Regions from separate parts of the Homo sapiens genome. Here region 2 is linked to region 1. Evidence: fine-mapped expression QTL. A gene starts in region 1. The other region holds a variant in brackets. All regions are shown on one strand. Distances are from middle to middle. Region 1 holds the start of SLC35F4-AS1 (SLC35F4 antisense RNA 1). Region 2 overlaps NAA30 (N-alpha-acetyltransferase 30, NatC catalytic subunit).

Region 1 (10,225 bases):
GCTTGATGGGAGGTGGTTTTCTTGCTGAGTGAATATCATATTCTCTGAAGCTGCCGGGTGTGTGTTCTGGTTAGACTTGGCCTTAAACTATAAGGAATAGAATTTAAGAATTTAGGTGTCAAGGAGATTTCTAAATAATAAGTAATAGACTCATCAATAAACACAGTGAGGGGGTTATCTAGACCTGGATAAAGGTCTAGACTCATCAATACACACAGTGAGGGGGTTATCTAGACCTGGAAATTCTATGAGGGTTATCATTTTCCTTGATTTGGGGATTTGCAACAGTTCTTTGGGGGATCTGATTTCAGGGAAATAAAAAAGGCACATTAGATATTGGCATATCCTGATTTGGTTTTGTGTTTAAATGATGTTCACTGGTTAGTGTTCATGTGCACAAATAGATTTCCTTCATAAGACTGAACTGACGGGATAATACATTTGAGTTAACGTTTGTTTTCTTTTAGCTAAGCATTGCATTTTCTAGGTCAAATAAACAAGCGGTTACTTGAAGCCAAGGCTAACAAAACTGTAAATCCTAACGAACTTTCACATGATGTGCTATTTTATATTTTAAATTATTAAAAGCATTCTATAATACATAATACATGGGTTTAGGCAATTACACACTGTAGTATGTAATTCTGGGTTTAGAAAATTGTGAAAACCAATTAAAAAACCCCAAAGCACAAAACAAAATCCTGTCTAGAAAAGGACAGGCAGTTGGTTTCATTATCCCCAAGATATGACCACAGGTAGGAACTCTTCCTTTTCTGAGTTAGCTACTAGTAAAAATAGATATGCATAAAGTTTCTATTATGTTTCCTCAAGATAGGAATTGAACATGGGTAAAGATTACATAACTCTGTAGCAATTCAAAATTATAACCATAGTGAGCCTCTTAAAGATCTTCATTACTCGTTATATTCAAGTGCTTGTGAAAATATTAGCCTGGACCACTTAAATTGACATGTCAATTACAGCAGTGTCTCTTTCAATTGCCTTCACAGAGAGAAGCATTTTTCACTTTAGGGGGTCAGACAATGCTGTTAAGTTCTGAAAGAATGAAAATCTGAATATTTGAAATGTTAGAAAAATTCTCCATGACATGAGCAGTAATTCATAAGTTATATAGTATGTTCCTGGGGCAGGGTGCGGGTGGAGGGTATAGTGGGAATAGATAAATTATTTGCCACATTTTAGTTTAAATTTCAAAAATATCTGATAGGTCAAATTCTCTATGGCTATATTTTAAGAAATTTTAAATATATTTCTTATCTATACTGTTGTAAGTGAAGGAAGAGATCTCAACTAATCTTGAAAATGAGGAAAAATTGTGGAGTGGTTGTTTGGGTGATCTCAGAATGGCTCTGCTTGGCACCACTGGTTTAACTTTAGAGAGTAAATACTCTTTAGATGTCTGGAGAACAAATATCCTAAGCACGTATCAGTCACACACATTTTCAGAATCAATCAGTCATCAAAGAGGGATTAATACTCTGTTCTTCTCAACAGAAAAACACAAAACGACTCTTCTTGGCCTCAGCTTTCTGGAAATGTGTCTGCAGGAAGCCAGTGCCTAAAATATTGTGTCAAAAATGCTCATATGTGTTCATTCACATGAAGACAACCACTAAAGTGCTCCTGGGACACATTAACATCCATGAGAGGAATTCTTCTGCTGAAAATACACCATCTAGTGGTGCCACCTGCTCGGCTTCTGAAAAATCTGTCTCTTGACAATCTATTCCAGTTCCAGCCTCTTAACCAACCAGAAGTGTCTAAATAAGATGGAAAACTAGGCCAGGCACAGTGGCTCACGCCTGTAATTCCAGCACTTTGGGAGGCCCAGGTGGGTGGATCACTTGAGGTCAGGAGTTCGAGACCAGCCTGGCCAACCATGGCGAGACCCCCATCTCTACTAAAAATATAAAAAGTAGCCGTGCTTTGGTGGCACATGCCTGTAATACCGGCTACTCGGGAGGTTGAGGCAGGAGAATCTCTTGAATCTGGGAGGTGAAGGTTGCAGTGAGCTGAGATCACATCACTGCACTCCAGCCTGGGCAACAGAATTAGACCCTGTCTCAAAAACAAACAAAAAAGATGGGGAAAAAAAAAACTCACCATTACCATTATCTGAACCTGGCTTAGGTGAGAATGTTAGTAACCATAGTGACCATAAAACTGCCAATGCCTCCATTTAAAATGTTTAAACCTCTCTGCCCTCACACATTGTGGTGTGCCCACCTGGGGTGAGTCATTGAAGGAAGAGGATTTATTTAGCCCATTATCTCAGCATGCCAGTTGAGTGGCATGGCCTCGTGAGCCAGCTATCTTCCTCTGCAGGCTGGGGCCCTCAGACAGCTCTCTGCACTAATTTTCAGAGCCAATCAGAAGGGATCCGTGTGGCCATTTGAGCCTGTTCCTAAAGCCCAAAGAGGGCTTTACCAGTGGACATTTGGTGATCTCACTGTACTAAATGCTACCTGTGACCCTGCATGGAGGGTGTTTCTTTTATCTTTCAAATAATTAGTTTGTACAGATAAAGCCTAAAGAAATATCTGGCTTTTGGCCGTTTTTGTTTTCTTGTATCTTTTTTTTTTCTTTTTTCTTTTTCTCTTTTGGCTCGGGCCATCAAAAGCCCACAAAGGTTTGGTCCTTCTGTGCATCTCCATGAGGGTTTATCAACCTGATCCCATTCACTATGGTTCCCACTCACAGATGGTTTTCACAATTCTTATTTGCATAACAGTACCAGCTCTTTTAGGGTCCAAGGCATTGGATGAACCTTTAGTTGCTTCTCTTCCTACAGTGTTCCTTTAAGATTTTAAAGGTCAAGATGACTGATTATAATCCAAACATGTTTCCTTACTTTGCCTTGAGGCTAATTCTGTTTCTTGAAGCTAGGTGAGTATGAAGCAGCTGGTTCACAAATGAACCCTTGAATTCCAAAGCCTACAGCAGCCCCTAAAAATGCAGATCTCAGACCACACTGCTGGCAGCTGCTGTGCTCAAGTTGAAGACTAAAGGTCAGTAGTTGAGGTTGGGACACACATTAATAGTTTGACGAATGAGAAACATGCTAATGATTATCTCTCTGGGTAAATTTAGATACAGTTGATTTTCAAGGAACTATGGCTATACAGAATCCTTAAACTTCTGCATATGTTATATTTAAGGTTCTATGGAAAACTTTCTTTTTTACTCAGATTCAATTAAACTGAACAAGTGCTGAAATGTGAAAAATAAGAGGTGTGGCAATCTATAGCTGTCCAGATGCTGTGTGTGACAGGGGGAAGGGGGGTACCTTGGATAGCAGCAAACCCAAGGGATGCTGGGCCTCTGAACTCCCCCTCTCCCTACATGCATGGATTTTTATCTGAATAAAATCCATTTGAAAATGATCTCAGAGGGAGACCTGGATGTCAAAGTTGTAAAGAAATCCCACGAAGAAAGAGTGAAGGATATATGTGGAGGGTAGACACATTGACTGCACCATGTTGAAGGGGTTACAGATTCCTTGAGGGTGTAAAATCGGACAGCCAGCACAACCCAGCTGTCTCCTCTCTTGGCTATATTCATAAGTCATTGTCCTGCCAAGATAGGGGTAAGAGGGAGGATGACTCCCACTGTCCATCCTCCACTGCCTCTTCCAGGAAGCATGGAAGCTCTGGGCAGAGAATTCTGCATTGCACATGAATAAAGAGGAGCCAAAGGCAAGATGGAAACAAATTGTCAAGTTACGTGTCATCTTAATTCTTAATATTTAATATCAGCATAAATCAGTAGCAGCTCAGCTCCAATGTACTGTTTTAGCCTTCAGGGGCCCAATTTGAATTCAAAGAAGTATATGCTATACCATGAAAGATTCAGTTTAACTGATGTACTTCAGTCAGTTTTTGGTAGATCCTGGAAAGTCTTTGAAAACAGCTATAGTTTGGGAAGCTAACTAACTGCACAGGGACCCAAATATAGCTGGAAAATATGTGGCTCCCAAGCCAGAGGGACACTAATGCATTTCACAGTCTGCTAAGACAGTTGGGATCTGCTGAACCATCCACCAACCACCAACATTCTCCATATCTTCAAGGAAATTGGAAAATATAAGAAAAATTTGAATGAATAGTATAAAAAAATAAGAGAGGGACAAAATCTGAAAGAAAGTTTCTACCATTCTAGTCTGGCATCTACTTTTCATTGGTGTAAAACAGATACCAACAGCAGAGAAGAAAGCTCCCAGCCAGTGGCACATTCCCCTTGGGAAGAACCTTTTTTTAAAAAAAAAAAAATTAAGGTGGGTTCTCTGGTTCTTACGAATTTAAGAACTCTAGCTAAACATAATAAGGTCTGAGAGACAGGAGAACACCTATTTTCAAGGCTGCAAGAGCTGGATTATCACTTTCTAACATTTTTGCAATCAAAAAATTATCTTTTAAAGAAGTTTACTAATTTTCATGGGATGATCACAGATTAGCTGCAAGCAATTTGCTCATGAAAGGGCTTTTTATAACACATCATAGATTACCAATAAATGGGCTGAAATGACTTCATACTAAATGTAAAACAGATTACCTTTCCATCTGTAATTCAGTGTTCAAAAGAAACAAAATATTAGCAAGTTATTCATAATACATAATTCATTTTTATGTGAGCATTAGTAATTCTGGCCTACTTGTGGTCCGGATAAACCCATATTTATGATGTTGTAACTTAAAGTGTCTTTCACTCTGTTCATGGTGTTCTTTTTACATTAAAAAAAAAAATTAGAAGTAGGGAAGGCCATAGCTTCTCATTTTAAATGTGCTCATTCCTGGGGAGCTAAGCATATGAAAATTATAATCCAACAAACATCTGTTTCTAAACTACTGATGCTTTAGCATGAACTAGAAATATAAATTTTAATCTGATGACTGAAAGCATCCCTTTAACTGTTTTTTTTTTTTTTTTTTTTTTTTTTTTTTTTTTTTTTGAGTAGTCCAGTGGGATGACATCTGGAGGGGCTATGCTTTAGATTATTTATAGATGTGGGCAATAAGAGCTACATTTATGTTGTCAGTGCTGTTTGCCCTCGTTTAATTTCTCAAATGACCTAATTATATGTGTTCTCAATATGTCTTGGGAGGAAAATAATTGCTGATACTGTCAAAGGCAAAATGCTGAATATGTTTCAGTGCTTCTCACATTCCATGGCCTGATTATGGGCATCATTAAATTACACGTTACCATTCTTCCGGAACATCGCATTGAACATGTCCTAATGTTTCACAATGAGAAGTGAAGCACTTCCTCTTACTTAAAAAGAAAAATATTTGATTTTTACAGGATGCCTGACACTAATGCTTACTATTCTGCTATCTATGATGTCTTCACTTATGGATATATTTATTAACAAGTACTTATTAGCTATTTAACATTTCCTCTACTGAGTGTTATTAATTACAGATGCTGTATTAGTTTCCTAAGGCTGCTGTAACAAATTACCACAAACGTGGTGACTTAAAACAACAGAAATTTATTCTCTCACGGTTCTGGAGGCCAGAAGTTCAAAATACAGCTGGGACCAAAGGCATCTCTAAGGAAGGATACAGTCCTTGCCTCTTCCAGGGTTCTGGTGAGTGTCCCGGCATTCCTGGCTGGTGACCACATCACTCCAATCTCTGTGTCTGTGATCACATTGCCGCCACCTCCTCTTCTGTGTGTGTCTCTTTTGTGAGTCTTTCATAAGGACACTTGTTATTGGATTTAGGTCCCACTCAGATAATCCAATATGATGTCCCCTTTTCAAGATCCTTAAGTTAATAATATCTGCAAGGACCCTTTATCCAAATAAGGTCACAGTGACAGATTTGGGGGATTAAGATGTGGACAGATCTTTTTTGGAGTCACCACTCAACCCACTGCAGATGGCAAATTTTAAATGGCAATGGTTGGTAGCCTATAGGCAGATTTTTGATTTTTAAAATCTGCTATTTAAAGATAAGTTACACAGTTGTTTTCTTTTTCTCTAAAATACCTCAAATAAACACTGTACCTTTTTGGACGTAACCTCTTGCATCAGTGAGGTCCATGAGTTAAATGTGCTCATTTGCTTTAATACAACGGATTTTATTGCTGGTATATCTAATGGTGAAAATATGGATTTAATGTTGGTATTTGCACGCCACTAAAAGAACAAAAGAGCCTCCAAATCTCTCTTCTCCCCTCTTCTGACAAGGCTCTCCAGGTTCTTATGGGTGGTCCATGATAGTGAAAGACAGTGAAAAGAAAGATCTCAGAAGTATGAACTCATTTACTATATCCTCAAATATCAATCGAACCCCCACTTCGTGCCCTGTAATATTCTAGACATTGGAAGTAGAGACAGCTGACTTCCTAGGGGATGACTTATGTTGATATATAGGGCCTTGTGCTTGGAAGGTCCCCACCCTTGGCTCAGTGCTCTGTTGTTGTTATCTTAAAATTATTAATATTCATTTTGCACTGGGCCCCATGGATTATGTAGCAGATCTTGAAAAGAACAGTGGACAATATAGGAAAGCTTCCAGCTCTCAAGGACTTGTCAGGGTATCTGATGGTAGACAGCCAGCACCAGTGCCCCAGACATAAATATGTGATGCTGAGCCCTTTGGGGTCAAATCTAAGATAAGCCAGTAAAGAATGTAGTGTCACATTTGGATATACTGTAATGGTATCATGGACTGACTCACAGTTTCTGATTTTGTCTTCTATCAAAACTTTCTACTTATTAATATGAAGCTTCATTTCTAAATTTCAGAGCAGCATCTCCCAAGATACAATCAGAATTGTCTAACTAACTGTTTTCTTAAGAAAATCTTTCAGGGTTAATGACCATCATAAACCCTCTCTCTAACATAGACATTAGTTTCAGCATTTGGGAGGGGGAAAGGACCTTGGAATCATTGCCAATAAGAGCAATGTTTTTATAACAAAATATGTTTCAAATTCTATCTATCTTGGACATCTCTTTCAGAGAAGATAAGTTGTGTAATATTGATACTCTGAGAAAAGGCAATTCATTTATACCTCCTTCTAAAGAAGTGTTGTCTCAATATGTTCATCATAGTGGCATGCCGGATTATATGAATGAGATCTGGCTCCTTAAATCTTCAGGGCTTCCCAGCAATCTATTTTTAACATAGAACAAGCATATAAATATATATGTTTTTAATCCATATTACTCCTGAAAGGAATAAACTCAGAACTGAAGTTGTTGGTGGAAGTTTAATGCAGTTCAATTAAGGATTTGTATCCAAAAGAAGTTGTTGCTTGTACTTCCATTTCTGCATTAGTCACACTAGATATATAGTCACTTTTAACAGCATTGTGCCATTACCAGTGACTTTAATTACTGTTTGGTAATCTTATCTACTTACACCAATATTAATTAAGTCCATCTGGTGGGGGGAATGGGGGGTCATCTCAACATATGTTGATTGAAAAATGCAAACCATAATCTTTATAGTGGCTAATTTTCTCAGACCCTTCGTTCCTGAGGACAGAAGGAGGTGAACACACCATTAGTTCTAAAAATTAATTCTAATATAGGAACTTGTTTTCTCTGCCTGTTTTAGTGCCTCCTGTTGGAATGAGCTCACTAACCAGTGGAAACAAACTGTTTATCCTTCTATGATGTTGCAACTGCCTGGGCTTTCTAATGCGTCTTCAGATTTCGGTTTGTACTCAGAACAAGTGAGAAAAGTTTTACAGCAACTCCACGAAACAAAGCAGACAGGCTCTCCTGAAGCCAAGGAGTTATGAAAAAGGCAGGCATCGCGCATTGAATCAAGTATGCCATTACCCTCACTCCCATGAACCTGTCTTTCAGCACAATCCATGACAGCAAGAAGACAAAGGCTTTGTTACAACAGAACAGAGCGGAGACATCCGTGGCCGTCAGCTTCTTTAAAGCCAGTAAATAAAGGTAATTAGTCAAAGTCCATAGAATAGAAAAGGGAGCAGTTCTTTTAAGAAAGAGTTTCAGCGTCAGACCATCTTCACCAAAAATCCGACTGCATTCCCTAGGAAAGAAAAGAGAAGTTAATATCCAGGTACTGATGGTGACACCTCTTGTCTTATCTGACTCATCGCAGCCATTTTCAGGTAAGAGCACAAACACTCAATACCCATCCTTCATTGTGAAGTATACTGAACCCAGTTCTGAAATCTGCGGGCTTCAGGGAGTGTATGAGGTTCCTTGGAAAATAGCCCACATGTGCCCAAGCACAGAGTTAGGCTCTCTTCTCTGAGATAGTCTCTGGAGGTTGCCTGAAAAGCCATTCTGTCGTTTTTGAGCATTCTCAGAAGAGCCTGCAGAAATACCGAAATTGGTAGTTGCTGAAATCACTAGCTATTGGAAGAGGGTGGGCAAACGAGAGAGGGTCAAGGCTGCTACTACTCTGTGAACGGGCTACAGACAACTCCTAGAACCCGGAGGGAAAGGGACCCTCATACATCTGTGCAGCACACATGTTTTTGGATTTTATTTCTAAGACACTAAGCCACTTTCTAATATATCTGCCCAATTGACTAATTTTTTTTCCTGCCAGCATTTTTAAGGCAGAAAAATGAAGTCCCTGTGATAACTCCCACATGATAAAAACTATAATAGAAAACTCAGGTTGTACTTATATACAAACATTTGGCCCTTTTGGAGGAATTGTCTAAATTCGGTGTGAGAAAATGGTCACTTCAATTGTTAAATCTTCGGTTTGTTTGATTTTTCAAGGAAGTTGGCTACATTTAGCCCCAGGGGCCATTTTTTTCCTTTAAGTCCTAGGCCTAAACATGATTTTTTTTTTCCCCCTAGGTCTGGCTCTCTTACCCAGGCTGGAATGCGGTAGCATGATCTTGGCTCACTGCAACCTCCGCCTCCCAGACTCGAGCCATCCTCACACCTCAGCCTCCTGAGTAGCTGGGACTACAGGCACGCACCACCATGCCAGGCTAGTTTTTGAAATTTTTTTGTAGAGACAGACAGGATTTCACTCTGTTGCCTAGGCTGGTCTCAAACTCTTAAGCTCAGGTGATCTGCTCACCTTGGCCTCCCAAAGTGCTGAGATTACAGGCAAGAGCCACTGCACCTGGCTCTGAGGGGCCATTTTAATAAAAATGTTCAAGCTAGCAATACATACAGGCAATAATGGAAGTGATACAATGACTGTACCTATACGACTATGGACTGAAGACAGACTTACCACTGGGAGAATTTTAATTTTTTTCCCACTCGATTGTTCATGAACATTCAAGTATTTATGGGGTAACTGTCATGCTCCAGGCATTGTATTTTCATGAGTAGTATATGTTTATAATGAAATCTATTTACAGGACTCTAGTACTAGTTTCTTTTCCAGTTTTAACTGAAATTAGTGTGCCTCAAAGTATTGCAAATCAAAGTAAATTCTAGCCAATGTTTGCCTCACATGAATAACCCCAAAAAAGGACCACGTGGAGAGGAGGAGTGACAAAGAATTAGGCACAGGGAGTATAGCCTTAAAGATTAAGTTTCATAGTAAATGTGACTTTCAACTGGATGAGAATGTTGGGAGTTGCAGGTCACCGGTTCCAGGAAGGTTAAAGACATGTGTTGCACACACAGAAACTTGTATTGAAATTTGTTTACTTTCATGTAAGGAGGCTTCCAAAAAGGAAGGATTTTTGTAAAATGAAAGTAAGATTTCCCAAAGATAAATTTTAACTTTAAAGCCTTCTGTAATGTAAACAGAAATTACACACGCTCACATACACAGGAAAGTGAACAGTCTCTTTGAAGCCCCACAGCCAATGGGATATTCTGAATTAGCACCATACATAGAACCAGAGGAAGTTTTCATAGAGCATCCTGGGCACAAAGTTCATTTTCTGTACTTATAAGGCGATCTGCTCCGTGAGAAAGCTGCCGTGTAGAGCTGGAGTTGAGAGTCGTGGGTTTATCCCATCATTTACAACTACTGATTGCCTTTTAAAATATGAACACATTTATTAAGAACCACAACAAAACCCATTCCTGATTAAAGGATATCTTTTTCTTATCACTGGCCCTAGCCAGTGATTGTTCTTCAACCAAGAGCTGGGAGGAGTGCTCCTAAGCAAAGATTTTGGATGCAGGAAAGGAACACTCCAATCCCACAGGGAAGACCAACAGATGTGTATTCCAGACAGACAGAGCCTCACTGGCAGAGCAGCTGGGAAGACGCTGCTGACTGAC
Region 2 (10,225 bases), 170 kb before region 1:
ATTAGGATTTCTTAATGGAATTTATAGTATCTTAAAATATTTTTAGTTGAAAATCACGTCATCTAATTTTTGCTTATTTATATTAAAGACATTTTTTCCATTGAAAAACCGTAATGAACATTACAGAAAACTTGGGAAACAGAAGAAGAAAGTTCACTACCTACCTTTCTAGCACGTTGTATTAGTCCGTTTTCACATTGCTGATAAAGACATACCTGAGACTGGGCAGTTTACAAAAGAAAGAGTACCACGTTGGATTTACAGTTCCACATGGCTGGGGAAGCCTCAAAATCATGGCAGAAGGCAAGGAGGAGCAAGTCGCATCTTACGTGGATGGTGGCAGGCAAAGAGAAGAGAGCTTGTGCAGGGGAATTCCTCTTTTTAAAACCATCGGATCTCGTGAGACTTAATTCACTCACGAGAACAGCACGGGAACGACTTGCCCCATGATTTAGAGACTCCCACCAAGTCCCTCCCACAGCACATGGGGATTCAGGATGAGATTTGGGTGGAGACACAGCCAAACAGTATCACACATCCAATTTGGTGTTTTCTTTCCATTCTTTTTTTGTTGCGTACATTTATTTTTACTAGACAGTTTCTTCTGTAAATAGTATGCCATGTAACTTGCGGCAGACTGTTTACAATCTGCTATTCAAACCCATGACTTTCCCTGCAACCTGATTTGCTTGACCTACTTAATGCTACTTATTTCTAGCAATATAAAGGTAATGCAAAAGACATTTTGGTAAATTTTAGATAATATAGTAGCTGACTCTATTTTGTACAATTAAAAGAATAAAATAGATCACATTAGCACTAATGAGTAAATTAGATTATTAGGAGCCAAGAAGATCTAAGTTATTTTTTGAAATAACTTATACTTTTCTAAATTAGAAAAGTCCAACTTAGAAAAGGTACAGTCATTCTTTTTCCCCCATTATAAAAGGTTACTTTTTATCTTTTTAATTAGACTATATTTATTGTGTTTATTATGTATTTACTAATAATATATATGTGTATATATATATATATAAAACATCTTTAGTTTCACTGGAAACATTATGCTATGTGATAGAGCCTGCAAGGTAAAGAACAGAATACAGTGGGGTTAGTTAAGCTGCAAGGATTTTGGGTGAGTAGTTTGGCCTAATAACTGATTATGAGACACCTGGTTTCCATATTTATCTTCTGTCACTTGGCAGTTGTGTGATTGTAGGCAGGCCATTTAACTTTTTCTGGTCTCTCTCTTTGTCTATGCAACATGATGTTAATTCTGATCTTAAAGATACGTTGTGAAGAGCAGTACTGTTTGTTGTTCATTCAGGAAATAGCAGTGGAAGGGCTTCTAGGTGCCAGACAGTGTGGTAGTGCTAAAGTTCTAGCAGTGAACAAGCCTGCTCTCCAGGAGCTTCCAGCCTACAGTATTAAAAAATACTATCTTAAGCAGTAATGTTTTGTAATGGTTTGGCTTATCCTGATAATGATCTGTTACTGTTGCTAAGAGGATCGGTGGAATTTCACTGTAATTTTTTTTTCTGTTAGGTAGAATTCAACTCTGTCAAGTTTCTTTAGGACCAAAATAACTTCATTTTATGGTGAATTTCTAATATAAATTCAGATATTCTTTTAATATGTTTATAAGAATTTAAGAATTAAAAATTAGTTACTTTATCCTGGCATTTTTCTGTTGTGTCAAATAATTTTCTAAAGAAAGAATCTCTTTGTTTAGAAAATATGAGTGTGCCAGGAGAATCTTTACATTTTGACTAGATTAGACATTGGTGTAACTTTTTTCTATGTAATTGAGCTTCATTTCATTAATATATTAGGATGCAAACAAACTTGAACTCAGTTCTTAACCACACTTTAAGTGTGTATTTGTGTAGTGGTGGTAGCCTCAGATGTGTTTGGAATATTTTAGATTGCTAAATATTGATGGTGGACTTAAAATCCATTTCATCTTGTCTTAAGTAGGTTAGATTTCCCAGTCACTGCTTTGCTTTACTTTGGGAAATGAGGGGGAGGTACAGTAGAGTAGTTACTATTAAGCTTTAGTTCATAATTGGACTCTGTTCTGTCCTTGCTCTGTTGGTGGCCTTGAGTTTTATTCATCTGTAAAATGGATAACCACATCAATTTCATAGGGTTATTGTGAAAATAAAACTACATAATACATATAGAATGCTTTACATTGCACATAGTACAGCTCCAATAAATATTAGCTGTCATATTTTAAAATTGTCACTTTTTATTTACGTGAAATCAATTCCAAGTTTTGAGTTGTTGTGACTTTAGTGTTTCTCATATTAAATTGCTTTGATTCAACATTTTAGCTATAATTAGGTGCTGGACCTCATAACAATTGCAGGAATTACCCAAGAGAATTGTTAAAAACTAAAAACTTGTATTGACCAGACTGTGGTGTTACAGACTCTAGTATGACATACGTTACTAGAAATTTAATTATGTCTGTGTGTGTATGTGTGAGTATTTTAATTTGTTTTTTGAGACAGAGTCTCGCTCTGTCACCCAGGCTAGAGTGCAGTGGTGCACTCACAGCTCACTGCAGCCTCAACCCCCTCGGCTCAAGTGATCCTCCCACCTCTGCCCCTCCAAGTAGCTGAGACTATAGGCACACACCACCACACCTGGCTAATTTTTAAGGTTTTTTAGACATGGGCTTTCACCACGTTGCCTAGCCTGGTCCCAAACTCCTGGGCTCAAGTGATCTGCCTTGACCTCCCAAAGTGCTGGGATTATAGACATGAGCCACCAAACCTGGCCAAATTGTGTTTTTTTTAAGTGCAGAGAGAAATTGACGTTTACTTAAACCAATTTGTTTGCTGTACAACTTGTATTTTAGGTTTTCTTAGGAGCGTGTTTTCTTGATCCTGAACTGTTAATTACTTCATTTTAGATCTTTTAAAGGTTTAGATTTAGCATTGGTCCCTGCTGTTGTTGGGCTTACCAGCTAGGAGAGATGACATACCACTCATCAAATGTTGAATAAGAATGTGTCATAGGAACGGTGCAGAATGTTGCTGGGTGATATAAAAGGAAAGGGGCACTGTACCCAATCCAGAAGTGACAAGGTAGGGCCAAAAGAGAGGAGGATAGGAAGAGCATTCTTCTAGACAGAAAACAGTTTATTTGAATGTTCTAAGGTGGGAAAGATCATGGTGGGTTCCAGAAACTGAAAATTCAGTGTTGAGCATGGAAAGCAAGAAGAGAGAGACCTAAAGCAAAGCTGAGGCCAATATATTGATGGACTTTTTATGTCTCTTGATATTATTTTTAGATTGTGGACTTTCTCTTGAGGACAAGAGGGAATCAGTAAACGGTTTTAAGTAGAGAATTAACAAGAGCATCACCCTAACTCTAGAGAGAATGGGAGACCTCTTGAGTTAGGAGGCTCTTGTAATTATAGTGAGAGTTGATGGCAGCTTGGACTGTGGTATATCGAGCATAGAAAGAAGAGGACCACTTAGAGATTTAAGAGGGAGAATTGACAATAATCAGTGCTTGGATGCATATAGGTGGTTGGAGAGGAATGAGGTTCAAAGATGACTCCTGGGTTTCAGGTTTGAGGCATTGGTGTGGTGGGGGGTGATCCTGTTTACTGAGATATGGAATTGAGGAGGAAGAGCAGATTATGAGTTCAATTTTGGATATAAGTTGAGGTACTGTCTTTATTATTTGCATCAGTTGTTTGCATTCTTGTCAGACTTTTTGATAGCTTGAGAAAGAACAGGAAGAGACTTATGCTTCACTTGGGCCTTTGTTTAATTATACTTTGCCATTTCCCCCCCACCCACTCCAAACACTTGAGGGTTATGACACCCAATAGTAACTGTGGCTCACTGTGTTGATAGTTCTCAATGAAATAAGTTGAGAAACAATTGAAAAGGCAAATAGAGCTACGTGTGTAAAAGTTGGGAAGATGGGGTAGAGGGTGTTAGAGGGAGGTAAAAATAAAATCGCAGTTTTCAAAAATACCAGTTATTCATTGTCAGGGCCACTGGCTCAGTAATATTTCAAAAGACTTAAATGAAAGTTAATACTATGTGTTCCTCTGTTAAGCTTTGCTATATAGACCAGTGGTTCTCAAAATGTGGTCCCTTGACCGCAGCAACATCATCATCTAGCAATTTAAAAATATTAAAAATGCAGATTCTTGTGTCCTACTGCAAACGTACTCATAAACTCTGAGGGTGGGGCTCAGCAATCTATTTTAACAGACCCTTCAGGTGATTATGATACACTGTAACATTTTGAATACCTCTTGTCTGGATTCAGCAAACTTTCTTGGTAAAAGGCCCACTAGTAATTATTTTAGGCTTTGTGGACCATAGGTCTTTGTGGCAACTGCTCAGCTCTGCCCTTGTATTGAGAAAGCCACCACAGACATCATGTAAACAAATAAACATGGCTGTTTGACTAAAACTTTATTTACAAAACAGCAGGCACATTTGGCCCAAAGTCTATAGTTTGCAGACTCTGGTCGAGACTCCAGACAAATATGGTAGTTATTGCCAGAATAAATGACATATTAATGAAAATACAGAAGTTGGAAGTCAATCTGAATAGCTGCTTATAATAATATAGCTTATTATTTTAAGGAAATAAACCAGCACTTTTGATTGTTGATTTTATTTTCATCTGTAGTCATTTTACCTTTCCCCACAGGGAAATAATTAATCTTTGTTTTAGTATAAAACATACTCTCATTGCTAAACATTTCAAACTACACAAATCAGTAGAACAGAAGATAAATCTGCAGTGGTCCTCCAAGCCCTTGACCCAAATATAATATTACAATCTTGATGACTGTTTTTGAGTTCTTTCTGTATATTATTTATTGTTTTCACTATCAATTTTTAAAATAATGTATGATTTTTTAAAAAATTGTTTAGTTGGTAAATTATTTTTTAAATTGTGTAATTATAACTTAGTTTTTTTCTCATTTCTTTGAAGGTTGTTTTGGAAACCGAAATAACAAATAAGTCCGCTTTGAAACTTTATGAAAATCTTGGTTTTGTTCGAGATAAGAGGCTGTTCAGATACTATTTAAATGGAGTTGATGCACTGCGACTTAAACTGTGGCTGCGTTGAGAAACTGACATCAAGGAACAACTATCATCC[G/A]CACAGAATCGACCTTTGCATGCAATGCAATTTGTACAGAATTGCTTTGCAGGTGGATTTAGTAATTTCCATGCAGCTCTTACCTGTCAGTGTCTCATTGAGTGTCGCACAATATTTGTTGCACTTTGGCATGGCACATTTGTTCTGAATTAAAAGATTGTTTTAAACTTCAGGAGTTCTTTTGGTACCAACAAGATGTGCCAGTTGATAGCCAAGATTTATGTGTTCATTTGCAAAGTCTGCTGACAATGTTATTTACACAGTGATCATTTTATCACAGAACCAGTAAGTGGAACATAATTTTTGTTCCTTAAAAAAGCCAATGTGGATTGTAAAAGTCTTTAAGTATACTAACATTTCACACAAAACCTGCCCTAGTTTTCTGAAGTGGGTGAGGGAGACGCTTCAGTTTTAGGTTTTATTTTTTCAATATTAAATTTTCCATTCTTGAATATTGGTACCTCAGTGATTAGTGAATGAAAAAAATGTAGGGTGGGTATGTCTTACAATGAGTAAAGGTAACAATTAAATTTTGTCTGCCAGTGCCTGTGTAGATAAGTATATTTGTCTTCATCTCTAGTTTTTGAATGCATGCTATCTTTTCCTTTTCTTTAAGGCCTTTGCAAGCAAACTTTTGTTTTTATTTAAATTCTAAATTTGATAAATTATTTCAGATTTTTATAATTTGGATACTTTTTTCAGGTGAATGAAAGAATGGTTTACTTTAGAAGTCCCTTTTTCCTTACAGTAACAAGTTGAATCTACTTGGAAAATTGAGAAATGGCTCAAAAGAGATAAGAAAAGTTGATGGAGCCGGGAATTGCTGGGGTTTAGATGCACTTTTTCTTTTGAGAGTAAGGGAAGTTTTGGAAAAGAATAGAAAATTAGTGTAAGTTGATATGATTTTATTTAATCAAAATTACTGCTACGCTGCGAAGAACAGCTTTTACAAAGTAGCTGAATTTGTTTTTCCCACTTGATTTGGATTCACATTGCTTTCATTTCTTAAAATGCTTCACTTCAGGTTCTTGGTCTTGGAAATAAATTTCAAGGTGCATTGTATCCATTTTAAGCTGCTTTATTTTATTTTCACTTGTATGAGCAAATTCTTGGGGGAGCTTTGCTTTTCTTCTGCCAGAAAAACAAAAGGGGGAAATGAAAATCTTTTTTGGAATGAGTTCTGTGGGTTTTCTTAACAGCCACCATGTTTATTAGTTACATTGTGTTTTGGCCAATCAGTGCAATGTAACAAATTTTACAGTTAATTGCTTTCAATTGAGTCAGTAAACCTGTGATAGATAATTTATTTAACTGGAAAACCTAGGTACCCATAAGAAAAAAGATTCATTCTCTGTGAAAACTGTAGGAATCTGTTGTTGTTTTCATTTGAATATGCTCTACTTCTGCTCTAGTATTTGGTTTGGAATATATTTTGTGGCTCTAATTACTGTATTTTTAAAAACCCTACCTCCATTAACAGTTGGTAAAGGCCCCTTTTCAGGAAAGTTTGTTGCTTTTTTTTTTTTTTTAAAGGAAAGCTGCTCTTTGCTCAGTATAGTGTTTTGAAAGTGAACATAGTAACAAATACTTTAAAAATAAAGATACACAATTTATATTTGAAAATAAAAACTTTCTGCTGGTGGGATTATTTATAGTTCTTTATTTTTAAAGAAAATGTTTTCCTTTTTATATTGCTCTTGAAAGTTTAATGAGCAGAATACAATACTGGTTATAATAAAAATATGGTAACCACACAGTACTCAGCCTTTCAATATGTTTTTGGTCAAACTTCATTTAGGCACTAGCATTTAGAAGAATACCAATCACAGTGATGCTTTTGTTATTTAATATGAAGGAAATGGAACTAAAACATTTATGTCATCAAATTTTATTTCACTTCTTTATATTTGACTTGCTGGTTGATACATAATGGTTGATGAACATATATTTGCTTAAATCACTAATAGGGATGGTTGTAAAGTAGATAGATCATTGGTTCAACCATTTTAGTGTTTTTGCCAGATTGTCAATGAAACCATCATACTGACCTTTTCCTCCAAAATTGCCAAATTGACTGAACTGGTTGGGTGTTTGTAAAGATGACGTTAACTGTGTGACTAAAAAGTCAGATGGTTGCCATATTGTTTGGAATATGTTGAATGTCAGTGTATGCCTTATGTCTTTAATTGGGTATGCAAAAAAATTTTTACTTAAGTAGATTAAAATTTTAACCTCTAGCATGAAAACCCAGCACCAACACTGAAAGACTCCATTCAGGTTGAAGTAGCCTCAAACAGTAATTTACTTTTTGATAATAGGCTGTTGTTTTTCTTAAATAAGCTTAAAACAATTCTATCTGAAATTGGTAGCATGGGTTCACTTGGCTACAACTGAGCAAAATAGATGCAACTTTCTTTTAATGGGGTGCTGCCTCTTTAGGACTGACTGTACTATCCACTGACACTGGTTTGGCAGTTGGTACTGCTGAACATTTTTATACATGCTACCATGAAGCTATATATGTTAGTATTGAAGAAGCTAACGGGTATACTATCATTTTTGATGTGTGGGCTGATTATAATTTCCTGTATTTCCTGTACATTGGGATGAAACTACTTTAGCAAAGTCCACAGATCAGAAACCAGACGGTAGTTTTTGAAGTTGAAACCAGCAAAATAAGAAAAAATAAAAAATCGATTTTAATATTTTCTGCCTCTTTCCCAAATTACCCTTCCCACTTGCTCGACAAATCTATGTAAAGCAGTTTGTTTTTTCATGTTTTAACTTTACCTTGCCCTGTGTTATGGTACTGGCTGACATGTCTAAGACTGGATGTGTATATTTATTATGGTGTCTAAAAATCATGAAGTTCATCACTTTTCAGGAGTATAGATAAAATCAAATTGGTAGTACATCAGAGTTACTTTTCAGTGCACCATGACATCACTAAAATGAGTGCTGTAATGTTACAGGGCTTTCAGGTTTGTAAAAACATAACCATAAATTATATTGACGTCAGATATGAGTTGAGTATCTATAAAATATCACGTGTATCTCAAAATATTGGACTGCTGTTTGACTGGATATTGCTGCATAATTTTCTTCTATTGTCCCATATCCTTTTGGAGAGAGATTTAATGGGATTTGAAATGTGCAAGCTGTCTAAATAAGATGCAGTCAAATAAAGTATGGTTAAGTTGTGTTTGCATTTTTCTTTTAGATACAGCTGTGTGCATTTTATGATTGGGTTGTTTTGCTTTTACCTACTAAGTAAAACAGCAACAAACAATATATTGTTTCCCGCTTCCTGCCTTTCATCTAAGAGTTACGGGGAAGAAGTATTACATAATTGTCATCACTGTTGTGTGTTCTGACAAAGTAAATTTGAAAATAACATGAACTTGATTTTTCTAAAAGTACTCAGTCAACTCATATGTCAGTTATCGGTACATTTTCCATGTGTTCAGTCAAAAGTTTATCTTTTTAGTCTGTTTCATAGCAGTTTATTTCTAAGACAGTTTTTATTTTAATTTACTTTTTTGTCTGTACACTGCCACTCTGTAATGTTCCCCCCACCCCATCCCACCCTTGGTAAGACACCAAAGTAAAATAGAGCAATATCCAAAGAGCTTTTTGCCCCTGTCTTGTGAGGAGCTTTAAATAGCTGTGAATACTTCTGTATGTCAAGATTTTCGGATTTTAGTGGAAGGATGAAATGATCTGTTTTAATCATTTAACTGCTAAATTACTTTTATCATGCATGCCAAATCTTTACATTATTCTTTAGAGTAATACTGTAAAAGTATCTGAGTTTGTTTTATTTGGGCCTTATGTGGAACTCGAAATACTTCATAAATTCACTCTAAGGTCTAAATAAGAACCAGAAGGTTGATACCATTTTTTCACACCAGTAAACACAGATCAGTATTAACCTGTAGCCCAGAGGTGTTAGATTTATTTTTTGAGACAGAGTCTCACTCTGTTGCCCAGGCTGGAGTGCGGTGGCACAATCTTGGCTCACTGCAACCTCTGCCCCCTGGGTTCAAGCAATTCTTGTGCCTTAGCCTCCTGAGTAGCTGGGACTACAGGTGCATGCCACCACGCCCAGCCAATTTCTTGTATTCTTAGTATGAGACAGGGTTTCACCATGTTGGCCAGGCTGGTCTCAAACTCCTGACCTCAAGTGATCTGCCCGCCTCGGCCTCCCAAAGTGTTGGAATTACAGGCGTGAGCCACCACGCCCAGCCTATGATATTCTTTTTATAAGCAACTTTTAAAAAGTTTTTTAAAAGATCTCATAAGCATATAGCACTGCTACACTTTAGATCACTACTGTCCAGTCACACTTTATATAAGGATAGATGTGTCCTTTTCACTCCCCAGTATGGTAGTTACTAGTCACATGTGTAGCTACTGAGCCCCTGAAGTGTGGGTGGGATGATTGAGCTGAATTTGTAATTTTAATCAAAGTTAGCCACATGTGGCTTGTGGCTACTGTATTGGACAGCAGAGCTTTAGATAAGCAGTAATAACAGGAAGGGAGTGTTTGTATAGGTTGAAAGATAAAATGGAAGGATCACAATTAGGCCAGATGTGGTGGCTCACGCCTATTATCCCAGCGTTTTGGGAGGCTGAGATGGTAGTTTGCAACCAGCCAGGACAGCATAGCAAGACTGTTTCTGAAAAATCTTTTAAAATAACACAACTAAAAATTACCTCTGAGCAAGAGTATAGCTGAACTGTTTATACTGACAATATATTTCATTAATACAGTGTTTGACCACTTTCCACCCCACCAACCACTGCCCTTGTTATGTAGCCTTTCTGAGAAAAGCAGCCCTTTCAGATTTTATTGTTGGAAGTTCCTTGGGTTGCAGAGATGCAGATTCAAGTGCCAAAAGTTGTTTCTGATGAGACTTACCTTTTTAGCCTTAAAATATTTGTATAGTTGGCTCTAATAATTTCTCATTTTTGATGAATTTGAAATCATTTCACTTCTAAATGAGATTGGTCATCTCATGAGTGGTCAAGTTGGAACATGGAGGTCTATCATGTTTTTAACCTCCAAGATCCACTTATG

Evidence for each region.
Region 2: its variant is fine-mapped to the expression of SLC35F4-AS1 in whole blood (TOPMed, PIP above 0.99). The same link has a PIP of 0.9 or more in blood mononuclear cells and lung.

What each region holds. Positions count from the first base shown.
Region 1 is chr14:57,573,395-57,583,619 of GRCh38, forward strand. It overlaps SLC35F4-AS1 (SLC35F4 antisense RNA 1), which reads left to right and starts at 4,939. Exons shown (of 2, transcript XR_007064193.1): 1 at 4,939-5,611; 2 at 7,593-10,225. SLC35F4 (solute carrier family 35 member F4) reads right to left here. Exons shown (of 8, transcript NM_001306087.2): 4 at 7,820-8,039. It overlaps LOC105370519 (a long non-coding RNA gene), which reads left to right. Exons shown (of 5, transcript XR_007064194.1): 4 at 1-1,852; 5 at 2,904-4,886. RefSeq lists an enhancer at 7,846-9,045.
Region 2 is chr14:57,404,402-57,414,626 of GRCh38, forward strand. NAA30 (N-alpha-acetyltransferase 30, NatC catalytic subunit) reads left to right here. Exons shown (of 5, transcript NM_001011713.3): 5 at 4,978-10,225. The coding sequence ends at 5,115. Among named protein-coding and RNA genes, the nearest start is that of NAA30, 19 kb to the left of the region's middle. The variant G/A (reference allele first, on the strand shown) is at 5,146.